Homo sapiens: one gene and its partners. The protein of the gene in region 1 binds, or shares a complex with, the protein of each later gene. Each region holds a gene or a part of one and is shown on either strand. Other genes may lie near its edges. The genes, in order: NDUFAF1, COA1, ACAD9 and TMEM126B.

Region 1 (7,022 bases):
GTCAAGGGAGGGACCAGGTGAAGTTAACTGAACCATGGGTGTGGTTTCCCCCATACTGTTCTAGTGACAGTGAGTTCTCACAAGATCTGATGGTTTTATAAGGAGATTACCCCTTCATTCGGCTCTCATTCTCTTTCCTGCCACCATGTGAAGGAGGATGTGTTTACTTCCCCTTCTGCCATGATTTTATAAGTTACCTAAGGCCTCCCCAGCCCTGCAGAACTGTGAGTCAATTAAACCTCTTTCCTTTATTAATTACCTAGTCTCAGGTATTTCTTCATAGCAGCAGCACGAGAACAGACTAATACAGCTTACATGCTTAGGAGGTACATTTACATGCTTACAAGCATGTAAATGATGTCATCTGAACTATGCTTCAGAAAGATAACTCTGGCTGCTGTGGAGCCAGGATTTTAGTGGGGCAAGAAGACAAACAGGGAAATCAATAATGAAGCTGCTGCAATAATCCAAACACCTGGACCAGGGTGGGAGTAGAAGAGATGGCTAGAAATGGTCAGCTGCTGAGTGTATTTTGGAAGCAGAGGTGACAGGACTCGCTAATAGACTGGATGTGGGGCAAAGGAGAAGAATTCAGGATGACCCTCAAGTATATGACATGAGCAAAATGGGGACTTTCTTGTTGAGTTTTTTTTTTTTTTTTTTTTTGAGACGGAGTCTTGCTCTGTTGCCCAGGCTGGAGTGCAGTGGCACGGTCTCAGCTTACTGCAACCTCCACCTCCCAAGTTCAAGCAATCCTCCTGCCTCAGCCCCCCTAGTAGCTGGGATTACAGGCACACACCACCATGCCCGGCTAATTTTTTTTTTTTTTTTTTTTTTTTTGAGACGAAGTCTCCCGCCCAGCCTGGAGTGCAGTGGCACGATCTGCAAGCTCTGCCTCCCGGGTTCACGCCATTCTCCTGCCTCAGCCTCCTGAGTAGCTGGGACTACAGGCACCTGCCACCAAGCCCGGCTAATTTTTTTTGTATTTTTTTAGTAGAGACGGGGTTTCACTGTGTTAGCCAGAATGGTCTCCATCATCTCCTGACCTCGTGATCCACCCGCCTCAGCCTCCCAAAGTGCTGGGATTACAGGCGTAAGCCACCGCGGCCGGCCTTTTTTTTTTTGAGATGGAGTCTCACTCTGTCGCCAGGCTGGAGAGCAGTGGCCCATCTCGGCTCACTGCCACCTCTGCCTCCCAGGTTCAAGCGATTCTCCTGCCTCAGCCTTCTGAGTAGCTGGGACGACGCCACCACACCCAACTAATTTTTTTATTTTTAGTAGAGACAGAGTTTCACCATGTTGGCCAGGATGGTCTCGATCTCTTGACCTCGTGATCTGCCCACCTCGGCCTCCCAAAGTGCTGGGATTACAGGCATGAGCCACCGCGCCTGGCCTCTAATTCTTGTATTTTTAGTAGAGATGGGGTTTTGCCATGTTAGCCAGGCTGGTCTCAAACTCCTGATCTCAGGTGATTTACCCACCTTGGCCTCCCAAAGTGCTGGGATTACAGACATGAGCCACCACGCCTGGCCTAGGACACTACTTTTTTTTTTTTTTTTTTTTTTTTTTGAGACAAAGTTTGGCTCTTGTTGCCCAGGCTGGAGTGCAATGACACGATCTCGGCTCACCGAAACCTCCGCCTCCTGGGTTCAAGCAATTATCCTGCCTTAGCCTCCCGAGTAGCTGGGATTACAGGCATGCGCCACCACGCCCAGCTAATTTTGTATTTTTTTTAGTAGAGACAACAGGGTTTCTCCATGTTGGTCAGGCTGGTGTCGAACTCCCAACCTCAAGTGATCCGTCCGCCTTGGCCTCCCAAAGTGCTGGGATTACAGGTGTGAGCCACCACGCAGGCCTAGGACACCAACTTTAGCAGAGTTGCCTGGAAGACATGAAATGGCAGAAACTTCTAAAAAACAAACAAACCCCATCTATTTGGACACAGAGCAGAGATGTGCCTGTGACTTAGCATGGACCTGGCCACATCCATATCAAAAATATTCACTAGTTAGTATGTTAACATTTATATTAATGAAACAAAATTCATTTATGTCTCTTAACCTTTCTTCTACCCACCCACCCCCACCTTCCAAGAAAGATTAGTAACAAAAAAGAAACTACAATGTAACAATCATCTCCAAGACTTTTTTTTTTTTTTTTTTTTTTTTTTGAGACAGAGTCTCATCTCACTCTGTTGCCCAGGCTGGAGTACAATGGCACGATCAGAGACTAGGTTTCACCATGTTGGCCAACCTGGTCTCGAACTCCTGACCTCAGGTGATCCACCCACCTCGGCCTCCCAAATTGCTGGGATTATAGGCGTGAGCCACCTCACCCAGCCAAGACCTCATTTTTATAAACAATGAAGATTTATGCTGTTACCTTGACCTCCTGCCAGTAGGGTCCCCCGCGGGTGAACATGAAGTAACTATACATCTGATTCGTCCTCTGGAAGAAATCTGTGTCCTCCTTGATATTCACCATCCAAGGCCGACCATCCCCACGTACACGGAGATACAGAGTATTGAACTGGGACCAATCGTAAGACATCTTCCTCTCAAAAGCACCCTAAGATATTGAAAGTAAAGTTCATTGTACCTCATTCTCCATTATTAGCAAAATGTGAGTCATCACCAAGTCAGCATCATCAACAGGATGCACTAACCATTTTTCTGACTTTCTGCCCCATAAGAAGGCACATAAACCCAGTGATTATTATTTTAGCACAAAATACTGACATAGTTATATGTTTCTAAGGTAATGTTCAACACACAACTGGCCCAGGACAGTGTTTACATGGGGTAGGCACTCACCTGTGTTCAATGAATGGAAATGAATGTATTTCCTTTACCTGGTCGTATGGAGCAATGACTTTTTCTTTTCTTTTCTTTTCTTTTCTTTTTTTTTTTTTGAGACGGAGTCTTGCTCTGTCACCCAGGCTGGAGTGCAGTGGTGCAATCTCAGCTCACTGCAAGCTCTGCCTCCTGGGTTCACACCATTCTCCTGCCTCAGCCTCCCGAATAGCTGGTACTATAGGCGCCCAAAACCACACCCGGCTAATTTTTTTGTATTTTTAGTAGAGACGGGGTTTCACCGTGTTAGCCAGGATGGTCTCGATCTCCTGACCTGGTGATCCGCCCACCTTGGCCACCCAAAGTGTGGGGATTACAGGCATGAGCCACTGCGCCCGGCCTTTTTTTTTTTTTTTTTTTTTTGAGACAAAGTTTCGCTCTTGTTGCCCAGACTGGAGTGCAATGGCACGATCTCAGCTCACTGCAACCTCTGCCTCCAGAGTTCAAGCAATTCTCCTGCCTCAGCCTCCCAAGTACCTGGAATTACAGGCATGCACCACCATGTCCAGCACTCTGGGAGGCCAAGGGTGGGGTGGATCACCTGAGGTCAGGAGTTCAAGACCAGCCTGGCCAACATGGTGAAACCCTGTCTCTACTAAAAATACAAAAATTAGCTGGGCGTGGTGGTGTGCACCAGTAGTCCCAGCTACTCAGGAGGCTGAGGCAGGAGAATCGCTTGAACCTGGAGGGCGGAAGTTGCAGTGAGCCGAGATCACGCCACTGCACTCTAGCCTGGGCGACAGAGCAAGACTCCGTTTCAAAAAAAAAAAAAGAAAGCCACAGGCTAACCCTACATCCACTCTACAAAACCCCTGGTCATTACAGAGGTTGTGGTCTTTTTTAGAGGAGATGAAAATCTCTCCAAAAATCTTTCAAATGTCTAACCTCTCAGGATTCCTGAAACATAACAATGCTCGTTCCTGGCCCAAAGCAATGCGCAGAAACAAGTTAACTCCTCCTCCTCAGAAACCACTTCCCCCTTGTGCTTCCACTTCACACTTGTGCCAATAGTTACTTATCCCCAGACACAGGTGAGGTGCCAAATATAACATGCCAGGTGTTTTCATTTACAGAAACAAAAGCTATCTTCTATAGTTTATGCTACAATGAAGTTCACCCCTGTTTACTAGAAAACGATGGCTCCTGGGCCTCACCTACCCTTGGAATCCTGGATATCATTGCACAGTACCCACTTCGGGTAGACTCCCCGTCCTGAGGCGCCTCAGAGCTCAGAGTTCCATATAGCAGTGCACTTTGGTTATTCTTGCCCATTTTCAAAAACACTTCACTTCTGCCTCCAATCGTCTTATCAGAAGTCACTGTCCACTTATCCAAATCTTCTTTCCCCCGGAATTGCCAGACAACCTTGGCTTGTTCCAGCAAGACCTCATGCAGAGGGTGGCCTTCCGGTCCTCTCCAATGATCCACAATTTCATCCTTCAAAAGCCTAAAATGGTATATTGCTTCATCTCTAATTGCTTTATCGAAACTAACATCAGGCTTCTCCTCAGAAGAAGTTATATCCAAAGCAACTTCTTTCTGGTGATCTCCTTGCAAATCCCCTTCAGTCTTCCTCTGTGAGGAGGCTTTGCCAGGAGAAGCCACTGGTTTCTGAAGACTACTGGAATACTCTGCAAAGCGAATACCCAAAAATGGATACAAGGCAGAAGTTGGCTTAGAGAATTTTCTGAGAAAATAAGTACCACGCAGCAATTTGTGAACCAAAGCCATGGTACAAAAAAATCAAAATGTAAGTTTCTTCCTGGGCTAGCAAGGGCCACCAAGAAGCTTCAGCAAATAGCCCAATTCTACCTATAACAGAAGAGACATTGAAGAATTATCAGCATAGCAATGAATGCATCACAATTTCAAATTCAACAGAAATCAGGTATTTTGAAGTTTGTTAACTTATTTGTTTACTATTATTATTATTATTATTTGAGACAAGGTCTTGCTCTGTGGCCCAGGCTGGGTACAGTGGCACAATCACAGCTCACTGTAGCCTCTACTTTCTGGGCTCAAATGATCCTCCCATCTCAGCCACCCAAGTAGCTGGGATTACAAGCACACACCACCATGCCCAGCTAATTTTTAAATTTTTTGTAGAAATGGATCTCCCTGGCCAGGCACGGTCCCAGCACTTTGGGAGGCTGAGGTGGGTGGATCACGAGGTCAAGAGATAGAGACTGGGCCGGGCGCGGTGGCTGACGCCTGTAATCCCAGCACTTGGGGAGGCCGAGGCGGGTGGATCACGAGGTCAGGAAATCGAGACCATCCTGGCTAACACGGTGAAACCCCGTCTCTACTAAAAATACAAAAAATTAGCCGGGTGTGGTGGCGGGCGCCTGTAGTCCCAGCTACTGGGGAGGCTGAAGCAGGAGAATAGCGTCAACCCAGGAGGCAGAGCTTGCAGTGAGCGGAGATCCCGCCACTACACTCCAGCCTGGGCGACAGAGCGAGACTCTGTCTCGGGAAAAAAAAAAAAAAAAAAATTGAGACCATCCTGGCCAACATGGTGAAACCCCGTCTCTACTAAAAATACAAAACTTAGCTGGGTGTGGTGGTGCGCACTTGTGGTCCCAGCTACTAAGGAGGCTGAGGCAAAAGAATTCCTTGAACCTGGGAGGAGGAGGCTGCAGTGAGCCAAGATCGTGCCACTGCACTCCAGCCTGGCAACAGAGCGAGACTCTGTCTCAAAAAAAAAAAAAAAAAAAAACAGAAAGAAAGAAAAAGAAATAGATCTCCCTGTGTTGCCCATGATGGTTTTGAACTCCTAGGATCCAGTGATTCTCCCCTCGGCTTCCCAAAGTGCTGGGCTGTAGGAATGATGCACTGTCCCCGGCCTTTTTTTTTTCTTTTCTTTTTATAAGAGACTGGGTCAGGCCAGGTGTGGTAGCTCACGCCTGTAATCTCAACACTTTGGGAGGCCGAGGCGGATGGATCACCTGAGGTAAGGAGTTCGAGACCAGCCTTGACAACATGGTGAAACCCCATCTCTACTAAAAATAATCCAGGCGTGGTGGCAGACGCCTGTAATCCCAGCTACTAGGGAGCCTTAAGCAGGAGAATCACTTGAACCCAGGAGGCAGGGATTGCAGTGAGCCGAGATCACGCCACTGCACTCCAGCCTGGACAAGAGCAAAATTCCATGTGAAAAAAAAAAAAAAAGAGACAGGGTCTCTTGCTCTGTCACCCAGGCTGCAGCGCCGTGGCAAGATCGATAACTCATTGTAGCCTTGAACTCCTGGGCCCTGGACTGAAATGATTCTCCCACCTCAGCCTCCAAGGTAGCTGAGACTACAGGTGCACACCACCATGCCCAGCTAATTTTTTTAAAAAATGTTGGCCGGGTGCCGTGCATCACACCTGTAATCCCAGCACTTTGGGAGTCCAAGGTGGACGGATCACTTGAGGTCAGGAGTTCAAGACCAGCCTGGCCAAAATGGTAAAACCCCATCTCTACTAAAAATACAGAAATTAGTTGGTCATGTTGGAGAGCGCCTGTAATCCCAGCTACTGGGGAGGCTGAGGCAGGAGAATCACTTGAACCCAGGAGGCGGAGGTTGCAAGTGAGCCGAGATTGCACCACTGCACTCCAGCCTGGGTGACAAAAGTGAAATTCCATCTCAAAAAAAATAAAAAAACCAAAAATTGTAGCCCGCCACAGTGGCTCACACCTGTAATCCCAGCACTCTGGGAGTCTTAGGCAGGCAAATGACTTGTCGTCAGGAGTTGGAGACCAGCCTGCCCAACATGGTAAAACCCCGTCTCCATTAAAAATACAAAAATTGGCCTGGCACGGTGGCTCATGCCTGTAATCCCAACACTTCGGGAGGCCAGGGCAGGCGGATCACCTAGGACAGGAGTTCAAGACCAGCCTAACCAACATGGTGAAACCCCTACAGAAAATACAAACAATTAGCCAGGTGTGGTGGCCCATGCCTGTAATCCCAGCTACTTGGGAGGCCTAGGCATAAGAATCGCTTGAACCCAGGAGGCAGACGTTGCAGTGAGCCGAGATCGTGCCATTGCACTCCAGCCTGGGCGACAGAGTGACTCCAACTAAAAAAAAAAAAAAATTAGCTGGGCATGGTGGTGGGCACCTGTAATCCCAGCTACTCGGGAGGCTGAGGCAGGAGAATCGCTTGAACCTGGGAGGCAGAGGCTGCA
Region 2 (7,658 bases), on another chromosome or scaffold:
CAAAGAACTCCTAAAAATCAATAAAGACAAAACTCCATACGGAATGGCAAATTATAAAGTTTTTCCTTGCTTCATTTTTCAAGTCTTAAAATGCTCCTCACGGGTTCTTTCACAGCATTTTTCCTGGGCCTGGCCTCCCACGTAGTTGTTGGAAAACCATCACTCTCTAAACCACAGCCACATACCCATAAGGAGGTCTCCAGGGCTACAAAAAATTAATCTCATGTGCTTTTCATTTAAAAGAACGGTAGCATAATCTAAAAGACTATCACATATCTGATAAATGACTTGTATCTAGAATATATAAAGAACTCTTGCAACTCAATTACAAAAAAGAACCTAATTTAAAAATGGGCAGAGGATCTGAGTACACATTTCTCCAAAGAAGATAAATAAATGGGCAATAAGCACTTGAAAAGATGCTCAACATCATTAGCCATCAGGGAAATACGATTTGAAACCATAATATTTTCAAAAAGTTAGGAGATTTTTAATGGTCGCAACACAAAGAAAAGATGAACGTTTCAGGTGGTGGACATACTAATTACCTGATTTGATCACTACACATTGTATACATTTATCAAAATATCACTCTGTAGTCCCTAAATATGTACAATTATTACATGTCAACGAAAAAGAATGAAAACACAATGACACACACTTCACACCCACTGGAATGGCTAGAATCAGAAAGACAGATAATGACAAGTGTTGGCAAGGAGTGAGAAATCAAAACCCTAATACACTACTGGTGCGAATGTTAAAAAGATGCACACTGATGCTTTGGAAAACAGTCTGACCATTTCTTAAAATGTTAAACAGAGCTACCATATGACCCAGCCATTTCACTCCTAGGCACATACGCAAGAGAAATGAAAACATGATGTCCACACAAAAACTTGTAGGTGAATGTTCACAGCAGCATTACACATAATGGCCAAAAGGTGGAAACAATCCAAACGTCCACTAACTAATGGAAAATAAATCGTGGTAATACCCATAAAAGATTAACCAGCAATAAAAAAAAGTACTGACACATGCTATTAAATACAACACAGATGAACATGAATGTTAAGTAAAAGAAGCCAGTTGAAAAAGACCACATGCTGTATGATTTCACTCACATGAATAATCCAGAATAGTCAAATATACAGTCAGTCAATTCATAGTTGCTTAGGGCTTAGAATGGGGAGTGGGGATGGGGAAGTCAGGTGAGCCTGCTGAATAAGTACAGGGTTTCCTTTTGGAGTGATGAAAATGTTCAATTGTTCCAATATGGCTCTCACAAACTGAATGCAGCATATTAAACATGAACAAAAGAATACAAGAATAACTTATTGGAGTCTGTCTGAAATAGAAAATTAAACCAACTAATGAAGGTGAAGAAGATTACAGCATATTTTATGATGATGGTTGTACAACTTTGTGAATGTACTAATGTACTAATTACTTTTAGGTTTTCTTTCTTTTTTTTTTTTTTTGAGATGGAGTCTAGCTCTCTCGCCCAGGCTGGAGTGCAGTGGCGCAATCTCGGCTCACTGCAAGCTCCACCTCCCGGGTTCACACCATCCTCCTGCCTCAGCCTCCCAAGTAGCTGGGACTACAGGCTCCCGCCACCACGCCCGGCTAATTTTTTGTATTTTTAGTGGAGACGGGGTTTCACCGTGTTAGCCAGGACGGTCTTGATCTCCTGACCTCGTGATCCACCCGCCTCGGCCTCCCAAAGTGCTGGGATTACAGGCGTGAGGCACCGCTACGTTTTAAATGGTGAACTCTACGGTAGGTGAACTATGTGTCAGGAAGCTGTTTTATTTTTTTAAAGGACTGAAGACTTTTGTTTTGTGTTTTGTTTTGTTTTCATTTTATCCCGTTTTTAAAACAGTGCCTAGCAATATTATGAATTCAATCGATTTTGGCTAAATGCTAGAACAAAAATTAAAACTTGAGTAAACCATATAAAACTTTGCCATATCTAAAGTTATTAAATTACCGTAGACTGGCATGGTGGGAGCATAATATGAGTGTACCTGCAGGTGTGTTTTCCATGAAAGTAGCAAAGACTGAAAAACTCAGCAGAATCAAGACCCTGTAGGCCCTTGAAGTTAGGCTAAGAAATGTGTATTATCCTGAAAGCAACGGGAAGGCCAGGAAGATTCTGAGGACAGAAATAACACAATCTGATATGCGTTTTAAACGTGCAGGTGTAAGCGGAGAGTTGCTACTTCTATCCAAACGTGAGCCACCTCAGAAATAAAGCAATAGCCCTCCGGGGAGAATGGGGAGGAATCAGGGGAAGACCGGAGAAACAGGTTATCAAATTATCAGAATCTCCATAGATTTTTTTAAATTACACAGCATCCACCCCCAAACACACATACAGACTGATAGGCACTGATATATACATAAATACATCCAATGTCCCCTACACAGAAAATCACTTTTGCAGTCAGCCCCTGTTGGGAGGGTTTTTCTGTTATTCAAGTGTGGTGGGGACAAAAAGTATTATAACCACTAAACCAGGTAATTCTTTCCTACAATAATTTGGGCAGCGTACTCCTCAGGGTGTTGAAATTTAGCACTACCAACAAAAGTGCCCAGTCCCAACTCTTCGAGAGGACCCTAACTCTTTACAGTGTGCTGTTGGGGATGGTCAGCAAAAACTGCAGGACAAGGTCAAGGTTAGCTCGACACAGCCTCCTAACTCCGAGCGGACGGAGCCACTGAAGGTTACCAGGTGCCAAAGAAGCTGCGCAGGGAGGCCGCGACCCGGCGCCGGCGCGAACCTCCGCGATGTGACCCGTGAGGGAACTCTCCAAGAAGCAGCGCACCCCGCGCGCAAAGGCGGCCCCCCGAATTGCAGGAACAAACGCTTCTTGCTGGGGGGAAGACGGAGACTCTTATACCGCGGGAGACTAACCTGTGAGCAACAGAAGCACCACGCTACAAAGAGCATGACGAGTTCTTCCAGGCTTGGGAAAGCACGGGTAAATGCCCGCGGTCCTGCGCGCCAGCGGGGAGCAGTAGAGACTTCCGGCGTCGGCTGCTCGCAGGGCTAGAGCGTCGAACCGGGACAACCGGAGGCTTCAGCTCACCTCGGATTGTAAATGCTAACACGGGTCCTCCGGCCGGCTGATCCAGAACTTAGGTCGCCGGGACGTGTGGCTTCTGCTTCTCAGACGCTCGGACTCGCGCCGGGAAGGGTTTCGCCTCCCCTGGTCCCCGCTTTTTTTTTTTTTTTCTGCGTCCGGTTATTGCAAATGCATTCAGTCCAGTAGCACTAGCCCAGGAAATATAAGCCACCGGCTCACGTTGCTCCTCACAGGTATGCGGCGCTTCCGCTGGCCTCCAAGGACACGAAGCCCCGGGCCGTCTGGCCCCCCACTCTAGCACTGAAATTCCTGCCGCCCCGTTCAGCTGACAAATTTGGCAGCACTAAATTTTATTTTATTCGACAAATTAAGTACCCAGTTAACACCAGGGAGTAACGGGGTAAGAAAATTTCAGAAGGCTGGTGGATAATAATAGCATTTACCTCATAAATTTGTTATGAGGATGTGAAGCACTTAGAGTAGTGTCTGGCAGTTTGTAGGCGCTCAGTAACTGTTAGCTGTTATTATTTTTATATTGATTATTCCATAGTCACCACTATTATCACCTTAATGTCAAGCTTGAAATCCAGTATCTTTCCTCTGCGAAGCCATCACTCCAAGACTAATTAACTTTAGACTGGGGCATTCTTCTTTAAACTCTTGCTCACACATCCCTATCAGAAAAAATATATATATATTTACATGTGTCATGTATGGCATTAATATATTATGCATGCTATAAAACTCACAAGACATCAAACTTTTGATGAGGTAAAAACAATTTTTAAACTTTTTTAAAAACTTCTAACAGAAGTTCTTTTCTTCCTCCACAACAATTAGGTTGCCAAACATACATTCTATCACTCTGGAATCCACTAGCTAAATGAGCACATTATCAAAGCAACCTACCGCTGAATTCTGACTTCCCAGAATGTTTCTTTTCCAAAGAATTAATAGAAACTAATCAGATTGTGAAGTGCTCGGCCATAAGGACTATTTAAATGGTTCTTAGAGAAAAAGAAGAAATAAAATAGGCATCCACTGAGTAATATTCATTGATGCAACATTGATTATTGACTTATTACATTTTCAAAGAGATTGAGGTTATAATACCTTACACCAAGCTTAATATTTCAAAGAATAAATCAACTAATAAAAAGCTTATGAGGTTTGGTATATGTGCATTTCATACAACGTTCATGAAAATGAACCCGAGATCAATTAGCTCCCGTTCTGTACCAGAAAGAGAAATATGTTTACTTTGTAAGTAATAAAACATTAAATAGGCTTTTCTGACCATTTGCTTGAAAACTCAGAACTTAACATTTCTATCACTGGACTTAAATCTGCTAAAGTTTTCGTCTAAATTTTACATTAAAAACAAAACTCTATAGTGAATAATGTTACCTATCCAATATTCATTTTCCTCTAACTCCTTTGTACCAAAATCCTTATTTTATTCAGATAGCTGCCCTGTTCCCAGAATCAAAATGATACTGATTAAACCAGTCATCACACAGAATTTTTTTGTCGTCTAAATTTTACATTAAAAACAAAACTCTATAGTGAATAATGTTACCTATCCAATATTCATTTTCCTCTAACTCCTTTGTACCAAAATCCTTATTTTATTCAGATAGCTGCCCTGTTCCCAGAATCAAAATGATACTGATTAAACCAGTCTTCACACAGAATTTTTTTGGAAATAGTTGCTAATCAAGGAACGAGTATATGACCCAGGTTGGCGCAATCTGACTGAAGGAAAGGACCTCTATTTCATGCTCAGGAGAAAGTTTCTGATATACTGTCCTCTTGACGTCGAAACATCTATCCCACACTGTCATTAGTAGCCATCTTGCCCATCACAAGGAATAAAACTGATGGACCAATGCTGAGGACAACTGAACAAGTTATAAAACAATGTCCTTGGTGACATCATTCCAAACCTGGAGCTCACCCTGTATCTGAATGCCTTGTAGGAATGTCTAATAAGTTTCCTTATTGTTTTTGTTTTCTGTTTTTCTGAGACTGAGTCTCACTCTGTCGCCCAGGCAGGAATGCAGTGGCATGATCTCAGCTCACTGCAACCTCTGCCTCCCGGGTTCAAGCAATTCTCCTGCTTCAGCCTCCCAAGTAGCTGTAACTACAGGCATGCACTGCCACGCCTGGCTAATTTTTGTATTTTTAGTAGAGAAGGGGTTTCACCATGTTGGCCAGGCTTCTCTTGAACTCCTGACCTCAGTGATCCACCCACCTTGGCCTCCCAGAGTGCTGGGATCCTTACTGTTTTCTGATAGAGATGCCATAAAGATTAAATGGGTTAAAATAGTGCTGGTCATATTGTAAGTATTTTAAGTGCTTAATAAATTTTAGTTATTATTAACTCACCTTAAGTCAGGGATTCTGTTTCTTATAGCCAAAATTACCCATCAAAATACACATTCTACCTCTCTTTTTCTATATATTTAAAGAAAGGGTCTGTTTTGATACTTTTAAACTAAGGAGCCAGGGAAGGGGTAGGAGGTGAAGAGAGGAGGGGCTGACTATAATGCTGTATGAGGGCTACTGTTAAGTGGTTAAATGGCTGCTTTGAGATTCACTCAAGAGCAGCAGGATCCTATAACTATCAAATCTGAATGAGGTTACTACACATCGTAGTTGTATGTATACATGAAAGTATCATTTCCTGCATATTAATATTGTGATCCACTGCCTTACTAAGTTGCTTTATTGTTTGGAGTTCATTCTGGTAGAATTTCTAAGATTGCAATCTTATCATTGAAATAGTTTTACCTACTTCTTTCCAAGTTTTATACCTCTACTTTCTCATATCTAATTGTTTTGGCTAGTATCTCCAGTAAAATATTTAATAATAATAATGACAGTAGACTTTTATGTCTTATTCCTATCTTTAATGAGATATCTTTAGAATTTTCCCATTAAGCATGATGCTGGTTTTAAGGACTGAAGTAGACATCTTTTATCATGTTAAGGAACTATCCACCTATTGAGAGAAAGAAGAAAATTTTGGCATAAGAGCTTTGAGAAAACAAAGCATTGAGCGTGCCATAATGTCCTGTCATAAAAATAAGTAAAAGTTAGACAGTATTTACCTCAAAGACACTGAGAAAATTAACATTAGCTAGGTTGGTATGAATGTCCTTTCTTGCTTATCTTACTACCAGCATGAAATTCAGTCCTGCCTAGTTTGTTTACAAGAAATTCACCTGTGATATCCTGATTTTTAACCCTGAAAAAGTTATTTATCTCTTACAATATGTCCTGTTTAATGTAAAGTTAATGCTTGCTCTACATGTTTTTTGTTTTTTGCTTTTGTGTTTGCTTTTACATGTACTCCAAGCACATGCTCTACATGTTTGTTATAGGAAATAATGTGCACCTCCTATAATTTTGTTATAGGAAATTGTAGCTGTTCAAATATGCTGATTGCAAAAAATAAAGGACATTTTATAATAATTGGGTTAGATCATCAAGAAGATATAACAGTCTTAAATTTGTATGAATCTGGCCAGGCGCAGTGGCTCACGCCTGTAATCCCAGCACTGTGGGAGGCTAAGGCAGGCGGATCACGAGGTCAGGAGTTCGAGACCAGTGTGACCAACATAGTGAAACCCCATCTCTACTAAAAATACAAAAATTGGCCAGGCGTCGTGGTGCGCATCTGTAATCCCATCTACTCAGGAGGCTGAGGCAGTAGAATCGCTTGAACCTGGGAGGCAGAGGTTGCAGTGAGCCGAGATCGTGCCACTGCACTCCAGCCTGGGCAACAGAGCGAGACTCCGTCTCAAAATAAAAAAAATTGTTTGGAACTAATAGCAGAGCTTCAATAAATGTGAAGCAAAGACTGACAGGACAATTCAAAAAATTGGAAATTGTAGGCTGGGTGCGGTGGTTCACACCTGTAGTCCCAGCACTTTGAGAGGCCAAGGTGGACGGATCGCGAGGTCAGGAGTTCAAGACCAGCCTGACCAACAGGGTGAAACCCTGTCTCTTCTAAAAATACAAAAATCGGCCTGGCATGATGGCGTGCACCTGTAATCCCAGCTACTCAGGAGGCTGAGGCAGGAGAATTGCTTGAACCCAGGAGGTAGAGGTTGCAGTGAGCCGAGATTGCAGCACTGCACTCCAGCCTGGGTGACAGAGTGAGACTCCATCTAAAAAAAAGAAGAAAAAAGAAAAGAAAAATTGAAAATTGTAGTGGAGATTTTAACATTCATCTCTCAGCAATTAATAGAAAAACTAGACCAAAAAATCAGTAAGTGCATAAAAAACTGGAGCAACACTATTAACCAACTTGACCTGTTTAATATTTATAGAACACTCCATAAATAGCTAAATGCACCTTTTAAGTGTGTAGAATATTTTTATGCCAGTTCATAAACATTGATAAACTTAAATACATTGAAATTGTATAAAGTTTTTTGTCTTACCATAATTATAAATTAGTAACAGATATCTGGAAAACACAAATATTTTGAAATTAAGTAACACACTTCTTTTGAAATTAAGTATACATTTTGACTCATGGGTCAAAGAAGTAATGGTAAA
Region 3 (7,022 bases), on another chromosome or scaffold:
TGGCTTGAATACTCAGGCTGGGGCTTCCAGGCGTGTGGCTGTGACAAAGTGCTGAGCTCTAAGGGCCCAAGAGTGACATGGCGCCTCTCCCAGGCAGAAGCACCCCCGCCCCGCCATAGCCATGTCCTCCACAGGCTCTCCCAGGTGTGGTGCACTCAGGAGGTGTAGAGGGCCGAGCCCCACTCAGAGCCCCAGCAGAGGAGCTCCCCAGAGGCCTTGTGCCTGAGTAAGAAGAGCCCTGAGCCTGGAGCCTGACAGCTTTCATTTTGGGTCCAGGAGCACAGTCTGGAACAAATCGCTTGCCCTCTCTGAGTCTCTGTCTTCTCATCTCTAAAATGGAGGGAAGCCAAAACAGGCCCAGAGCCTGGCACCAAAGAGGAGCTTCATAAAGCACTTAGGGGTGTGCTGCCCCGGGTACCCCCATTTCCCCGCAAATGCTTCCACCACAACCAGGATGGTTACAGGGCTGTTCTAAGTTCACTGGCAAAGGAAAATGGAGGTTTGGGGTATTCTGACAGAATAGAACAAAGGTAAGATCCAGGGGCCCAGGGACCTGGGTTCCAAACCCGATCCTACTCCCCACCCACCATGCAGAGTCACCCAGGAGGCACGGACCTTGGGAACCAGAGGCCGTGTATCCTGGAAGCCTGGTTCTTGGTGTGTGCTCACCAAGCAGCTCTGCTCCTACTGGTCAGTGGCAACCTCTCACTCCAGACAGACAGCCCATTCCCCAATCCCCATCCCCACCCCAGACAGAAAGCCTGTCCCCCAGTCAGCATCACCCGGGTGGAGGTGAAACAGAGGAATGCGGAAGACAACAAACCTCAGGGGCAGGCTGAGGAGACCCTCTGGTCTCCACAAAAGCCCAGGGACTGAGCTCAGGCTGGTAGCCTGGTTCAGCACTGGCCTGGAAGGGGCCGGGGGAATGGCAGAGCCTCCAGGGTTGGAGCCGGGGCAGCAGGGGGTGGGGCACAAAGGGCCTTGTCCCTAACTTACCTACCAATCAATCTCTTGAGCAGCCCAGCCACGACGCTGCCCATGCTGAACCGGCCGCTGTTGAGGATGTTCATGGCCACCTGCAGGGAGAACAGGGAGAGCCCAGGGGCCCTGAAGGAGGCAGAGGGAGGAGGCCGCAACGAAACCAGGCCAGGTGGATCAGCTTGCCTTCCCTCAAGCTGGGAGAAAGCACCATCCTAATGCCTCAGAACAAGGTGGTTCAGTCACTGTTGCAGCTCTACCAACATCCCCACACACAAGACCACTGAACGTTATTCCAAAGGACCATGCCAGAGCTGGGCATGGTGGCTCCCACCTGTAGTACCAGCATTTTGGAAGGCCAAGGCAAGAGGATCGCTTGAGCCCAGGAGTTCAAGACCAACTTGGGCCAAACAGAAATTCTACTTTTAGGCATAAATCAAAATACCTGAAAACGTTATTTCCACATTAAAACTTGACATGAATGTTCATAAGTAGCATTACTGATAGCAGCCAAAAGCGGTAACAACCCCAATGTCCATCAGCTGGTGAATGGATGAACAAAATGTGGTATCTCCACTCAACAGAAGAGAATTCAGCCATAAAAGGAATGAATTACTCATTCATGCTATGAGAGAGATGAACCTTGAAAACATCACGCAATGTGAGAGAAGCCTGTCACCAAAGACTGGATCTTGTATATGACTGCATTTTTATGAAATGTTCCAAACAGGCAAATCCATAGGGACATAAAGTAAAAGAGTAGCAGCCAAGGGATGGGGTAAGGGTCATACTGGATGGTACAACATTTCTTTTTGGGGTGAGGAAATGTTCTGTGTGAGATATTTGAACAACATAGTGAATATACTAAAAACCACTGAAATAATATTTTAAAATGGTGAGTCCTTTGTCATATGAATCATCTCTTGATAAAAATAAGTCTTAGTCCAAAAAGAAAAGAGTAGGGCAGCGATGCAGACCAGGGTTGTGGTACACAGAGCTTGAGATTCACCAGAGCCCACAGGCTGCTTTCTCATACCCACTGCAGAAGGGAATCTTAGCCTCCGCTCGAGGCGAATAGGGCCTCAGAGGTGAAGGGAAATTCCTAATCCTTACCATACACTTCTTCTAGGAGCCAGCCAATTTTCCAGTGTCCATTTTGCCAATTTCCCAACAGATAACCATGCAAAGTCACCTGCCATGCACAGGCTACTCTGCTACGAGCAGGGATAGGGCAAAAGCTGGGGGCGACAAACTGCACTCATGACACTACCTGGTACAAGGGGCTGTGGCTGGCAACTCACCTTAAACCCATCTCCGACCTCTCCAAGGATGTTTTCCACAGGTATCTTGGTGTTTTCAAAATGGACTTCACAAGCTGAAACACATGAAATTTAAGATATCATCTGACAATGCAAACCACTCTGCATCTGACCTGCAAGCAGGCAATTCATCCATCCATCCATCCATCCATCCATCCAATGTTTGGTAGGACAGTATAGAAAGACAAAGTTCCTATCTTTGTGGAGGCTCATACTTTGATTTGGGAGACAAAAGCTATAAACAAAACAATGTAATATTGTGATCAGTGCTATGGATGAAATAAATAGGGCATCACGATAAAGAGAAATGGAGGTTGGCAAGGGGGTGGATAATAATATTTTTATTAAGGACTATGTCAGACTTTTCTAAGGTGACATTTAGCAGAAGTTTAAGAATGAAAAGAACCAGGCATATAAAGAGCCAGAACAAGCAAAGTGAGGGAAAGAACAGCATTTCCTGAAGCCTTAGGGTAGACTGGGACCACTGGTCTCAATTCTTAACTCTAACACAATCACACCCCTGCAATCTAACTGTAGCACTCTCCCACTGTGAGGAGGGATGGACCTCCCTCCCTTTCCCTGCCTGCTAGGTATGACCATGTGACTTCCTGTGGCCAATACAAAGAGCTGACCCAACATGAACAGAGACCTTAAATGTGTTTTAGGGTCAGTCGGGTATGGTGGCTCATGCCTATAATCCCAGCATTTTGGGAGGCAGAGGCAGGAAGATCACTTGAACCCAGGAGTTCGAGACCAGCCAGGACAACATAGCAAGACCTCATCTCTATTTAAAAAAAAAAAAAAAAAGGCCGGGTGCGGTGGCTCACGCACTTTGGGAGGCCGAGGTGAGCGGATCACGAGGTCAGGAGATCGAGGCCATCCTGGCTAACATGGTGAAACCCCATCTCCACTAAAAAATAGAAAAAATTAGCCGGACGTGGTGGCAGGCAGCTGTAGTCCCAGCTATTCGGGAGGCTGAGGCAGGAGAATGGCGTGAACCCGGGAGGCGGAGCTTGCAGTGAGCCAAGATAGTGCCACTGCACTCCAGCCTGGGCGACAGAGCGAGACTCCGTCTCAAAAAAAACAAACCAAAAAAAAGTGGCCAGGTATGGTAACTCACACGTGTAATCCTAGCACTTTGGGAGGCTGAGGCAGGTAGACTGCCTGAGCTCAGGAGTTCAAGACAAGTCTGGGCAACATGTTGAAACCCCATCTCTACAAAAAATACAAAAATTAGCCAGGTGTGGTGGTGCACGCCTGTAGTCCCAATTACTTGGGAGGCTGAGACAGGAGAATCACTCGAACCCAGGAGGCAGAGGTTGCAGTGAGCTGAGATCACAGCACTGCATTCCAGGCTGGGTGACAGAGGGAGACTATGTCTCCCACGGCAAAAATAGTACTTATATGGCTTGGCTTGGCCCCTTAGGTGCTTATGATCTGCTCTAAGAACAAGCCTCCAGATGGACCTGAACCCAGATGGACCTGAACCCAACTCACAGCCTGAAGCAGGCTGCCAGGCACTGCAGACTGAGACAACTAAAGGCTGGGGACTGTAAGCTGAGCTCTAAGGTGGTGTGTCTGCTAGGGCAGCTACAGCAGGGGATGACCAGCAGGCCTTCAAGTGAGCAGCACTCAGCTGCAGGAACAAAGACAAAGCCCAAGTGGCATTCTTAATTTGATCTTTTTAAAATGCTTAACAAAAACTGAAAGTGTTTAAATCTCATTTTATCTTGCTATTTGGACAGAGTCAAGGGCCAGTCTCCCCCTTACACACACACACACACACACACACACACACACACACACACCGTCAAAGGCCAGTCTCCCCCTTACACACACACACGCGCACGCGCGCACAGGAGCTACTTACTGTTGGAGCCCCGAATGCCTAATTTATCTTCGGGTTTCCCATTAGTGACTCCACCAAAGTCTCTTTCTACTATGAATGCTGTGATTTTGTCTTTCACTGATCCATCAGAATCAACGACCTCAGTCTTTGCAAACACAGTAAAAATATTGGCCAGTCCTCCATTAGTAATCCAGACCTGAGGACAGAAAGATGGACTTTGGAGAAAACCAAACCCCTATGTGACCCACCTCAGCTCTGTCTTTGTCCATCAAGCTCCAGCTGCCAGTCAGACCTCAGGCCAGACATGCAGGGTCCTTGGCTCTGCAGAAGCCAACCAAGCATGAGTGAATAGAGGACAGGGCTCAGCCCACTTTCCCCAGAGCAAGGATTTTCCCAAGGGACATGGATGGCCAGGTGGAGGCGGGGGCGGGGGAAAGAACACCCAAAGTTGTCAGACAGCTCAGGCTCCACCGCCAGACAACTGCATTTCTTCAAGAAAGAAAGGGTTTAATCATTTCTTAAGGTATACATATATAAAAACATCATGTTGTAGATGTAAATACACACAACATTTATTTGTTAATTCTACAAAGAAATGAAAAAAGGCGGGAGGGTGGTGAGGAGGAGGAAAGGAAACAGAGGGAGACAGAGGCAGAAACAGACTCCTTAACAAACAGCAACAGATGGGACTTGTGTGGATCTTAATTCAAGCAAACAGTTAAACCAAAAAAAGGTATGAGGCAATCAGGGATATTTGAATGCTGATAGAAGTAAGAAATTATTAGCTGGGCACAGTGGCTCACGCCTGTAATCCCAGCACTTTGGGAGGCCGAGGTGGGCAGACCACTTGAGCCCCGGAGTTTGAGACCAACCTGGGCAACACGGTGAAAACCCATCTCTACCAAAAAAAAAATACAAAGAGTTAGCTGTGTGCCTGTACTCCCAGCTGCTTGGGAGGTTGAGGTAGGAGAATCACCTGAGCCCAGGAAGTTGAGGCTGCAGTGAGCCAAGATCGTGCCACTGCACTCCAGCCTGGGTGACAGAGCGGGACCCTGTCTCAAAAGAAAAGAGAAATTATCAATTTTTAAAATGTGATAAGGGTATTACGGCTTTGTGTTTATTAAAAAACAAAAACAAACAAAAAAAACTCCTGTCTTTTAGAGAGGCATGCTGAGATTGTTACCATGCGATCTGGAGGTGGCGATGCTGCTGGAAGAGGCACAGTGGCCATAAGCAGGTGACTGCCGGAGTTAGGGCCAGCCAGGCACACAGAATATGTCTGAAACTTTGTGTAACAAAAAATTTAAAGATTTTTTGGGTTTACAAGCCGGGCACAGTGGCTCATTGCCTGTAAACTCAGCACTTTGGGAGGCCGAGGTGGGCAGATCACTTGAGGTCAGGAGTTCAAGACCTGACTGGACAACATGGTGAAACTCCATCTCTACTGAAAATACAAAAATTAGCCAGGAGTGGTGACACGCACCTCTAATCCCAGCTACCCAGGAGGCTAAGGCAGGAGAATCATTGGAAACCTGGGAGGCAGAAGTTTCAGTGAGCTGAGATTACACCACTGCACTCCAGCCTGGGTGACAGAGACTCCATCGCAAATAAAAAAAACTAAAAAAAATTAAAAACAAACACATAAAAGCAGCTCAAGAAGGTAGTCGGTGCTACAGCAGCAGGTACAATCCCTGGTGTGTGGAGAGTGCTCACTCAGTGGCAGTGAAGGTTGTGACTGAGACCCTAATGTGGCCATGGGGAAGGAACCCTACCTTGGAGCCATTGAGGATGTAGTGCTTCTTGTCTTCACTTAGTGTGGCTCTGCTCCGGATTGAGGCTGCATCGCTCCCACTGCAGATGCAGAAAGATGTGGTCAAGGGAGAATACTGGGAATAAATATGAATGCTTTTGAGGGCCTGAAAATGGAGGTTTTAGTACTTGTAAGAGGTCAGCAAACTTTTAAAATGAAGGGTCAGATAACATATTCAGCTTTCCAAGCTGCAGGATGTCTGTCTCACCTCCTCAACTCTGCTGCTATTAATAGAACATGAGGCTGAGGCAGGTGGTTCACGAGGTCAAGAGATTGAGATCTGGCCAACATGGTGAAACCCCGTCTCTACTAAAAATACAAAAATTAGCTGGGTGTGGTGGGGCATGCCTGTAGTCCCAGCTACTCGGGAGGCTGAGGCAGAAGAATCGCTTGAAGGCGGAGGTTGCAGTGAGATGAGATTGAGCCACTGCACTCCAGCCTGGGTGACGCAGCAAGACCCTGTCTCAAAAACAAACAAACAAAACTTATTTATAAAAAACAGGCAGGAGGCTGGATTTAGCCGACCTCTGCTTCAATACATCACGTAAAAAAGCGGCAGTGAAAACAACTTGGGCTTAGGTTTAAACATGGAAATGGGTGCTTGCAATGGGCTCATCTGAGGTCCTGTGAGGATGAGTTCTGGGCACCCCAGGAAGGATGACTGTTCCCAGGTTCTCATGCAAAGTGAAGCAGGATGGAGGATGGTCCAGGTGATGGACTTATCATCAGAGTCCCGAGTGCTGCCGCAGCCCTGCTCCATCCAGCAGATCACACAGCCTCACTGAACCTCAGCTCCTAATGTGTAAGTGGGAGCAGTACCACCCACGCTATATATTCTGAAAGGTGCTTTGAAGCCGGAACGTTATTACTATATTGTATGTCAAGGTGTGTTGTAAACCACAAAAATTTATTTAATAAGTGCTGTCAAGCGTGGTATCTCACTTGCAAGTCTCACTGGGACAGAGAAATAAGGTCAAGATAAGAGGAATGGCAAGAACAGTTGCTGAGTTGATTCTTTGCAAGATTTTGGAAAGAAGGAAAAGTCAGCTACTCAACAAAACCAACA
Region 4 (7,663 bases), on another chromosome or scaffold:
CAGTTTAGTAGTGTGCCAGGTACTGTGTCGTCTGCTTTCACATACTTTGTTAGTAATTCAATCAACATTTACTGAGCTCTTATTATCTGTTAGACATTGGCTTTTTGTTATTATTTTTTATTTTCTTGCTAAACATCCTACAATACAGACATTGGCTTTCTGATTTACACACTAACTTGAGAAATTGGTAGTATAATGATTATTTCTATACATATGAGCAAACTGAAGGTCTGAAAGGTTGGCTTGCTTGAGATTTAGTGTAGAAGGCTAACATACTGATACTGTTGCTGTTTTCCTCTCTCCTCATTCCGAGAAGGCAGTCAGGCTCTTTGTAGTTGTCCTCCTAGCTCTTCAGGTGGGGAGGTGGAAACAGTGGCTGCTTATTGACATCTCTATCCTCAGTTTCTCATGAAAGATTAAGTTCATTTTGGAAATCGTGTTTCATTTCCTAGAGAGGTAGGAGAGAGCAGGGATTGCCTTGGAGAATAGTGAGAGAGAAAAATCAGAAAGAGGGACACTGCTCCAGGAAGGGAACAGGCAGTGGATTGTGGCTACTACTTTGGAGTACATAAATTATATATCCAGTTCCCTATTACCACCTGTGGTGGAAGCAGAGCCTTTGCTAGAAATGGTCATGTGGTATAGCAGAGACCCATACCTGCCACCACACCCGGCTAATTTTTGTATTTTTAGTAGAGGCAGGATTGCACTATGATAGCCAGGCTGGTCTCGAACTCCTGACCTCAGGTGATCCACCTGCCTCAGCCTCCCAAAGTGCTGGGATTAAAGGCGTGAGCCACCGTGCCCGGCCCCAGAGACCCATGGCACTGGGCTCCTTGGTCGGAAGGTTCTTGTGTCCCAAGTGTGATGAACAGACAGCTGCCAATGTCAAGGGACCATGAAGACCTGGCCAGTAGCATCTTAACAGAAACTAGACAGGTTAAAAAACAAAACAAAACAACAACAACAAAAAAACAAACCCTGCACTCTCAGAGAGGATCGTTTCTGAATGTTTTGCTCTGGGCAAGACTCTAGAGTCTCTGTGAAAAGTCTTAATAACATTTGTTAAATCCAAACACGTGGTTGCAAATGTTTACCTACTACAGCAGCCAAGTGGAAGGTCTATTGCTGCTAAATTCAGTGCTTTTTACTCTTTTTCCTCCAGATTAGCTAAATAGTCTCTTTACAAATTTACACTAATCTCAATTTTAATGTTTATATTAAAGGGAAATACTAAATCTCAAATTTAAGGAGTCCTAGACAAGAGGATTAGAGGGGATAAAGCATAATGAACACACAAGATACTTAATAAATCAGTGGTTCTCAACCTTCAGCATGCACAAGAATCACATGGGGTATTTATTTGAAATGCAGTCTCATGAATTCCCTCCTGAGATACCTGGATTCAGCAGGAGTAGGATGAGGCCTAGAATCTGCATTTTAATAGCACTTAGTGCTTCTGATGCTGTAGTCAATGGACACATGTTGAATATCACTGTAATACTCATTTGCTGAATGAGCGGTATGTACCAATCCTAACTATAGAAGGCCAGTTCATTATACACAGTTCCTGGCATCAACATACAGAAGGTATGAGCTCCTTTGAACCTTCTTATGGTGTTACACAATGAGTAATAATGGACCAGTTTCTTTCTCTGCATCATGGCAGAAATGTACTCAATCTTTTTCTGTAACATTTCTGGAGAGGGCAGGGGGAAAAAAAGGTAAAATATTTTACAAATTACAATTTTTCAGTGACTAGACTTACATCTTTTCCCTCTCCCTGACACCCAAATGGAAAGTATAAGGGATAGTAACATCTAAGGGAGATTCTATACCTAACCCATCTATTGTACTAAGACATCTGCTGTCTTGGCAGACGTCAATAACATGAGTAACCATAAACCATAGATAAATTTTTGTTTTGCTCTCATCCAATTCATTGAAATCCTCCACCTTCCACCAAAAACAAAAAACAAAACAAACTTCCAGGCAATATCTTCTACTAATCTCCTACCTAGTCTACACCCTAAAGTCTCTATAGGGAAAACAGACACCCAGGATTATGATTACAGGACAGCAAATACTGAAATACTGGAAAGAACACAGGAAATATTTGAGTGCTTAAGCTTTGCAAGGCACTGTCAAAGACTCCAGTGCTTTCATTACACCCCTTCCCCCTTAAGGCCACTCAACTAGTCACCACGCTTATACCAGTAAGAGTGCATTTATGTAGGTTTATAGTTTGCAAATCATCTAACGGTTTTGTAGTGCTTTCATGTGTATTATTTTACCTAATAATAAATTTTTCACCTAATAATAAATTTCACCTTTAGAATTTTATTCAACATTCGCTCATAATTTAGGGAGCACGTGGTATATGCCAGACCTCCGGGTAATCAAGATACAGTCATCCCATCCTCAGGAATCCACAACGCAGTGGGAGTTCAGAACAAAAAAGCTGGCAATTTAAACACAGAATGAGAGAGTGACATAAACGAAAAACCCAACAACCTAAGAAAAAGCAAACAATCTAGCCAGAGGAAGCGTGGGAAGGCTTCCCGGAAGAAGTGACATTTAAATCAATAACCGAAAGAGAACAGTTTGGCAGGGGAGTTGGGACGGATAGAAGCAGGGAAATACTCCAAGTTGAAGAAAAAGCCTGTGCAAAGGCCTGGAGACAAGAGAAAACAAACTGCAGATAATGAGGACTAGAATTTAGGTCATCTACGTTCTCTCCGCCTCTTTCCACAGCAACTGGAGACTTAATCGACTGCTCCTTGCATGGACTTGGGAGCTGTTTTAACTTTTCAAATCTCCTTTAAAGGTATCATCTTAGAAGAGTCTGCCAACACTTTGAAGGTGCAGAAATCACCCCCCATACCACTTCGGATTTCCGCCTACCTTGGGCGCTTCCTCAGTTCCCACCGGCACCACACCTGAATCCCTTGGCTTAGTCCCAGCCTCATACCCGAACACCACCATTTTGGTGGCTCATGTGACTTGCCGGTGGGCGGGGACCCAGAACGCCCTGGGCGGGAAGTGGTGCTGATTTACGGCTCAACGCCTCTCGATTGCAGCCCGGGCCCGCCCCCACTCAGTCAAAAGCCGCGCCCTCCATCCTGACTGTGATTGGGCGCGGCGTCTAGAAATTACGGCCACTTATTCGCTTAGAGGAGGTCCAGGCGCCTGTGGGCCTGCCCCCCTCGCCAGCCGAGTATTTCCTTCCCTGACTATTTATCAGCTTAGCTCCCTGATCTCTTCGCGTCCTGCGGGAAAGATGGGGCGGCCCGAATGTTGTAATGTTACTGCGCTCCTGCCTCTCCTCAGGGCAGCTGGGAACTAGCTGCCTGCCCCTTTCAGTCCTTGAGGGAACTCGCCCCTTTGCCCTGGCCTGTGTGGTGTTAAAGCTCTGTTTCTCGGGCACCTCCTCCTCCAAACCCCGGACCAGCCGCCCAGCGCCGTCAGAGCAGCCCCGACTAGCCTCCTCTCCTCTCAGCCGTCTGACTCCTCTCCCCAGTCTGTAGTCCCCTCAATTTGCATCCTTTAGCCCCGCTTGGAAAGAGACCGGAGAGAAATTTGCCCACTACCCCCGCGAGAAGACCCACTTGTCAGCCGTGTCTCGGGGTGGGGGGCACTGCAAGGCCTGGCGCTGTTTTGTGCACGTTAAATGCCCAGCAGTATCTCCCAGACCGGCAACCCCCGACCCTCCAGTCTCCATGTCTTACAGAAGCCAAATTCGAGAGTTATATAATTTCTAGTGCTGCTGTTGCTCCTGCCTGAGGAAACACTTCATCGCGTGGAGGGTGCAGGACATTTCAGTGCTCTTCCCTAAAAGAACGGGGCTTGGGCAGGGGTGGCCAGCGGTGGCAAAGAAATGTCTTGTCTTTTCTGCAAAAGGAAGGTGGGTAGTTTGAAGAGAGATTGAGAGAAAAGGTGGATGTGAAAGCCAAGCAGCTGCACTTTCTCATTTAGGAAATCGCGGACCGTTTACATAGCTTATGCTTACATGTCTAATACTACTACGGCGTCTCTGAAAACACCTTTGGGGGAAGGTTTGGCTTCTCTCGAAGTCTCAGTGTTTTTCCTCGCCGGATAGGGAGCTGCTTGAATGCGAAGAGATGGCATGATGTGAATGACTCCAGTGTGAAGAAATCTGCTTCGCCAACTCATCCTGCATCAAGTGCCCATTGAGTAGCACTGTCACTTTAATGTCTCCATGCCAAGGGATTGCTTTCCTTTTTTTTCAATCCTCTCGGTTAATACATGGGAGGATCAGAATCAGAGGGGCATTAAGGATCAAGCCTGGGGGCTTGGAGAGCACAGAAGAAAAAAATGAAAGGGACAGCAAGCTGGATTCTGAGTTACTGAGGGGGTGAGATCCGGAACTTCTGATCAGTAAATATAAGGGGGCCTTTCAATGTGTGTTCTGCCACAGAAAACTGTTCAAACTCACCTATCTTTTTAGAGACTGGAGTCAAAGAGATTTTTAAAAGTATTTTTGGGGAGGTGGGGTTACATTTTTCTCTACAGATTTGAGTATCTTTATCATCATCTTTGAATTTGACCATGTATAAAGTAATGAGACCTGTCTAAATTTGGTTTGTGCCTTAATTGAGTTAGTCATTGAACTTCCAAAAATGTTGCTGCCTGAAGAGGAATTTCAGTAACGTTCTTCATGTTTACAATAATTTTCCCAGTTTGTAAAAACAGTCTAAATATTTTCTGAAAATTGAAAAACTTGAAAAACTAAAAAATTACGTTGCTGTAAACTCTGTGGGCGGTGTAAAAAGTTTAGTTGTGGAAAAAATACATCATTATTTTCTTTGTCTGACATAGAAGACTCAGCCTGGATTTCAAAACTGAACACTGAAGTGGTTTGCAACAGTTACCTGGCTCTTGGCCTCAATCCAGCTGGATCAAACTGAGACCTGAAAAGAGATATTGACTCCTGTGGCAGTGGAAAGACCCAAGAATGCCAGTCAAGAAGACAGGTGGGCCATAAGGTTGCTATATAATATTTCTCCCTTTTGTTGGTTCTGGTACTTGTAATTTAAATTATATTCCATTTGAGAGTAAAGTTTTGCTTCAGTTTGGGGGAAATATTTATTGTAATATAGTTTCAGTGGTACATAATTCAGTAATATTATTTTACTAAAGTAAAAGGAAGCAAGACTATAGTATTTATTGATAGATATTTATGATTTCATAAATCAGGTTGTTTATATCACCGTTGGTAATAAGAATAGATTCAGTACCGCAGATTTGGAGTCTCCTTTAGCTTGTTTTCTTAGCTTGTTGAAGGTTACTTTTAAGCAGTCTTTAAAAAAGAAACTTGTGCAGTGGAGCTCTTCCTCATGGGTTTAATATTTATCAAACTAATTACAGAATTGTGAAAGGTAGCAAAGTAATTTCATTTGCACTGAACAAAATTACAGCTTTATAATTTATCTTTTGGTTAAAAAATAGACTTATTATTTGGATTTATTCTAGTGTAAATCTTCACTTTTGTGATAAAGCACAACTTTCGTGACTATTGTGCTTTTCCAGATATATGCATTATCCAATAACATGATTGTCAAGTTCCCCAAATGGGGCAAACACCTGTTTTTTTCCTCCCTCCTCAACAACTTTTATTATTGGAATTGATCAAGATCTAGTGAATTCCTGAAGCATAGTTGATTATATTCTGAACTTGGGGATTCAGTTTAGCTTAGATGCACCCCAGGTTAACTTTGTTCCAAAGGATCCTAGTTTGGGACTGTTTTTGTTTTGTTTTGTTTTGACATTATATGGAAGGTGAGATCAACTGTAAAGAGTTTCTCAAGAGTTTTGAATCAAAACTTATATGAACAGCCTTGAACTCTGCTATACTGGACTAATATAGATCCAAATGTTGTCCAGTTATGTGAGTTGCTACAATCTGAAACTAAAGCTCTGGGTGAATTGCAGGTTAAAGTGGAACTTATCTCTGCATGGTGTTTAATTCTTCTACCTGTGGATTTGTTAGGGATGTTGAGGAAACTTATAATCACTGAGATGCCTTATCCAAGCTGATATTTGTAGAGATGGACAATGATATATAAAACTTTTGGAACACCTAGAACTGTGATATTTGCACACTGGGATTTAAGATTGGGATTGTTTCCTCCCCCTGCTGTTTCTAATAATACCACTGACAGAAGTAAACTGCCTGAGATTTTGGAGCCACACTTGTCCAGACCAGACACAATTGGTTTATCTAGAACAAGAATGGTTTTGGGAATGTAGCCAATAAATGATATGGCTCTTTGACATATTTAAGTTGATGTGTGTTTTTATTCTTTCTACCATTTCTCTAGAGAGTTTCTTTTGGATTACCTTATTTTGAACTAATAATGGAATTAAACACATTACGTGTGTGTGTGAGAGAGAGAGAGACAGAGAGGAAAAGAGTGAAAGGAAGAGAGAATGGGAAGGAGGAGAGACAGAGAAAGAGATAAAAAGGTATGTGGGAAGGAAGAGGAGGAAGGTCAATTGATATTCTAGGTATAACTTAACTAAGCAGGTTTAGTTAGAAAGTTTAGAACTTAATGTTTCTAAACCCCATAAACCGAGTTTCTTAAAAGTTCTTCCCTTTAAAGAACTGTTACAGAAATTGCTGATACATTGGTGAAATTATAATACTTTAGAAGAATTTCCTTTCTTTCCTTCTTCCTCTCTTCCTTTGCCTCCCTCCTTCCCTTTCTTCTTTCCTTCTTCAATAATGAATTGACTAATGGATTGAATTTTTAAAGGAATCAACAAGTTCTTATTAGAAAAACCAGTTTATATTTCTATGATACCAGAGTATATGTTGTATATTTTCCTTATAAACTGATCTAGAGAAACAATGTATCTTGCTTTTAATCTCTTAAAACTGCTAGTATTATGATACATATTCTTGAATATTATAGACAACTAGCCAAACAAGTTATGTGTATATTGTATTTTTCATTGGCTATGCTTACTATCTCTACTGTTTATATAATATAAGAACAGTATTTTTAAGTTTAACCTAGATTTATTCTGCAGGGATCACTGTCCTCTGTCACCTTGAGTCTTTTTCTCTCTTCATTGTTTCATGTGGTAGACATGACGAAAAAGCTAGACTTAATGTGATTCTAAACAATAACTATCCTCACTGAGCCAAGTGTTTATTCATTGTTGAACATATTCTCATTAAAGTATGAAATTTTCATAAGATGGATTTTCATTTGGTATTTAGTTAGTATATTTTTGTCAAAGAGAGAGGAGATTCTTTTACTGATACCATGCAACCATGGTGGGAATTGGGAATGGGTGTGACATCTCACTAAGCCCATTTCTAGGTGCCATTCTGGACTGCCCTTGGATAAGCTGAAACTACTGTGCCTCAAACCCCATATTAACTGCTCGTTTGCTTTATGACATTACTTTCTACTTCTCTCACTCTAGTCTCTTCGCATTTTTACAGATCTCAGTTTTATCAACAGAAGACTCTTCTGTTTCCTCATAGAAGGTTTTTTTTCCTCAGCAGTTGCTTTTCATTCAAGATTTTCTTATCTATAGTAGTAACTTTATTTGCTCCCAGGTGAGCCCTTGGGACAATCTTGGACATATTTTAATTTGTGAAAATTTAGGACCAATTCAGGATAAGTTGTAT

The links.
Region 2: NDUFAF1 (region 1) and COA1 share a complex: the UniProt entries of both Homo sapiens proteins name them as parts of the mitochondrial complex.
Region 3: NDUFAF1 (region 1) and ACAD9 share a complex: the UniProt entries of both Homo sapiens proteins name them as parts of the mitochondrial complex.
Region 4: NDUFAF1 (region 1) and TMEM126B share a complex: the UniProt entries of both Homo sapiens proteins name them as parts of the mitochondrial complex.

The regions. Positions count from the first base shown.
Region 1 is NC_000015.10:41,392,477-41,399,498, forward strand, and holds part of NDUFAF1 (complex I intermediate-associated protein 30, mitochondrial precursor), read right to left. Parts: intron 4,665-7,022; 5' UTR 4,584-4,664; coding exon 4,011-4,583; intron 2,569-4,010; coding exon 2,383-2,568; intron 1,883-2,382; exon of another isoform or gene 1,629-1,882; intron 1-1,628. UniProt on the Homo sapiens protein: As part of the MCIA complex, involved in the assembly of the mitochondrial complex I.
Region 2 is NC_000007.14:43,726,512-43,734,169, forward strand, and holds the start of COA1 (cytochrome c oxidase assembly factor 1 homolog), read right to left. Parts: upstream 3,013-7,658; 5' UTR 2,918-3,012; exon of another isoform or gene 2,732-2,917; intron 1-2,731. UniProt on the Homo sapiens protein: Component of the MITRAC (mitochondrial translation regulation assembly intermediate of cytochrome c oxidase complex) complex, that regulates cytochrome c oxidase assembly.
Region 3 is NC_000003.12:128,896,607-128,903,628, reverse strand, and holds part of ACAD9 (complex I assembly factor ACAD9, mitochondrial), read right to left. Parts: intron 5,998-7,022; coding exon 5,919-5,997; intron 4,343-5,918; coding exon 4,168-4,342; intron 2,354-4,167; coding exon 2,280-2,353; intron 1,077-2,279; coding exon 1,001-1,076; exon of another isoform or gene 997-1,000; intron 1-996. UniProt on the Homo sapiens protein: As part of the MCIA complex, primarily participates in the assembly of the mitochondrial complex I and therefore plays a role in oxidative phosphorylation.
Region 4 is NC_000011.10:85,623,930-85,631,592, reverse strand, and holds the start of TMEM126B (complex I assembly factor TMEM126B, mitochondrial), read right to left. Parts: upstream 3,001-7,663; 5' UTR 2,986-3,000; coding exon 2,905-2,985; intron 2,462-2,904; exon of another isoform or gene 2,352-2,461; coding exon of another isoform or gene 2,331-2,351; intron 449-2,330; exon of another isoform or gene 277-448; intron 1-276. Other genes in the region: DLG2 (disks large homolog 2), read left to right, coding at 4,976-4,994. UniProt on the Homo sapiens protein: As part of the MCIA complex, involved in the assembly of the mitochondrial complex I. Participates in constructing the membrane arm of complex I.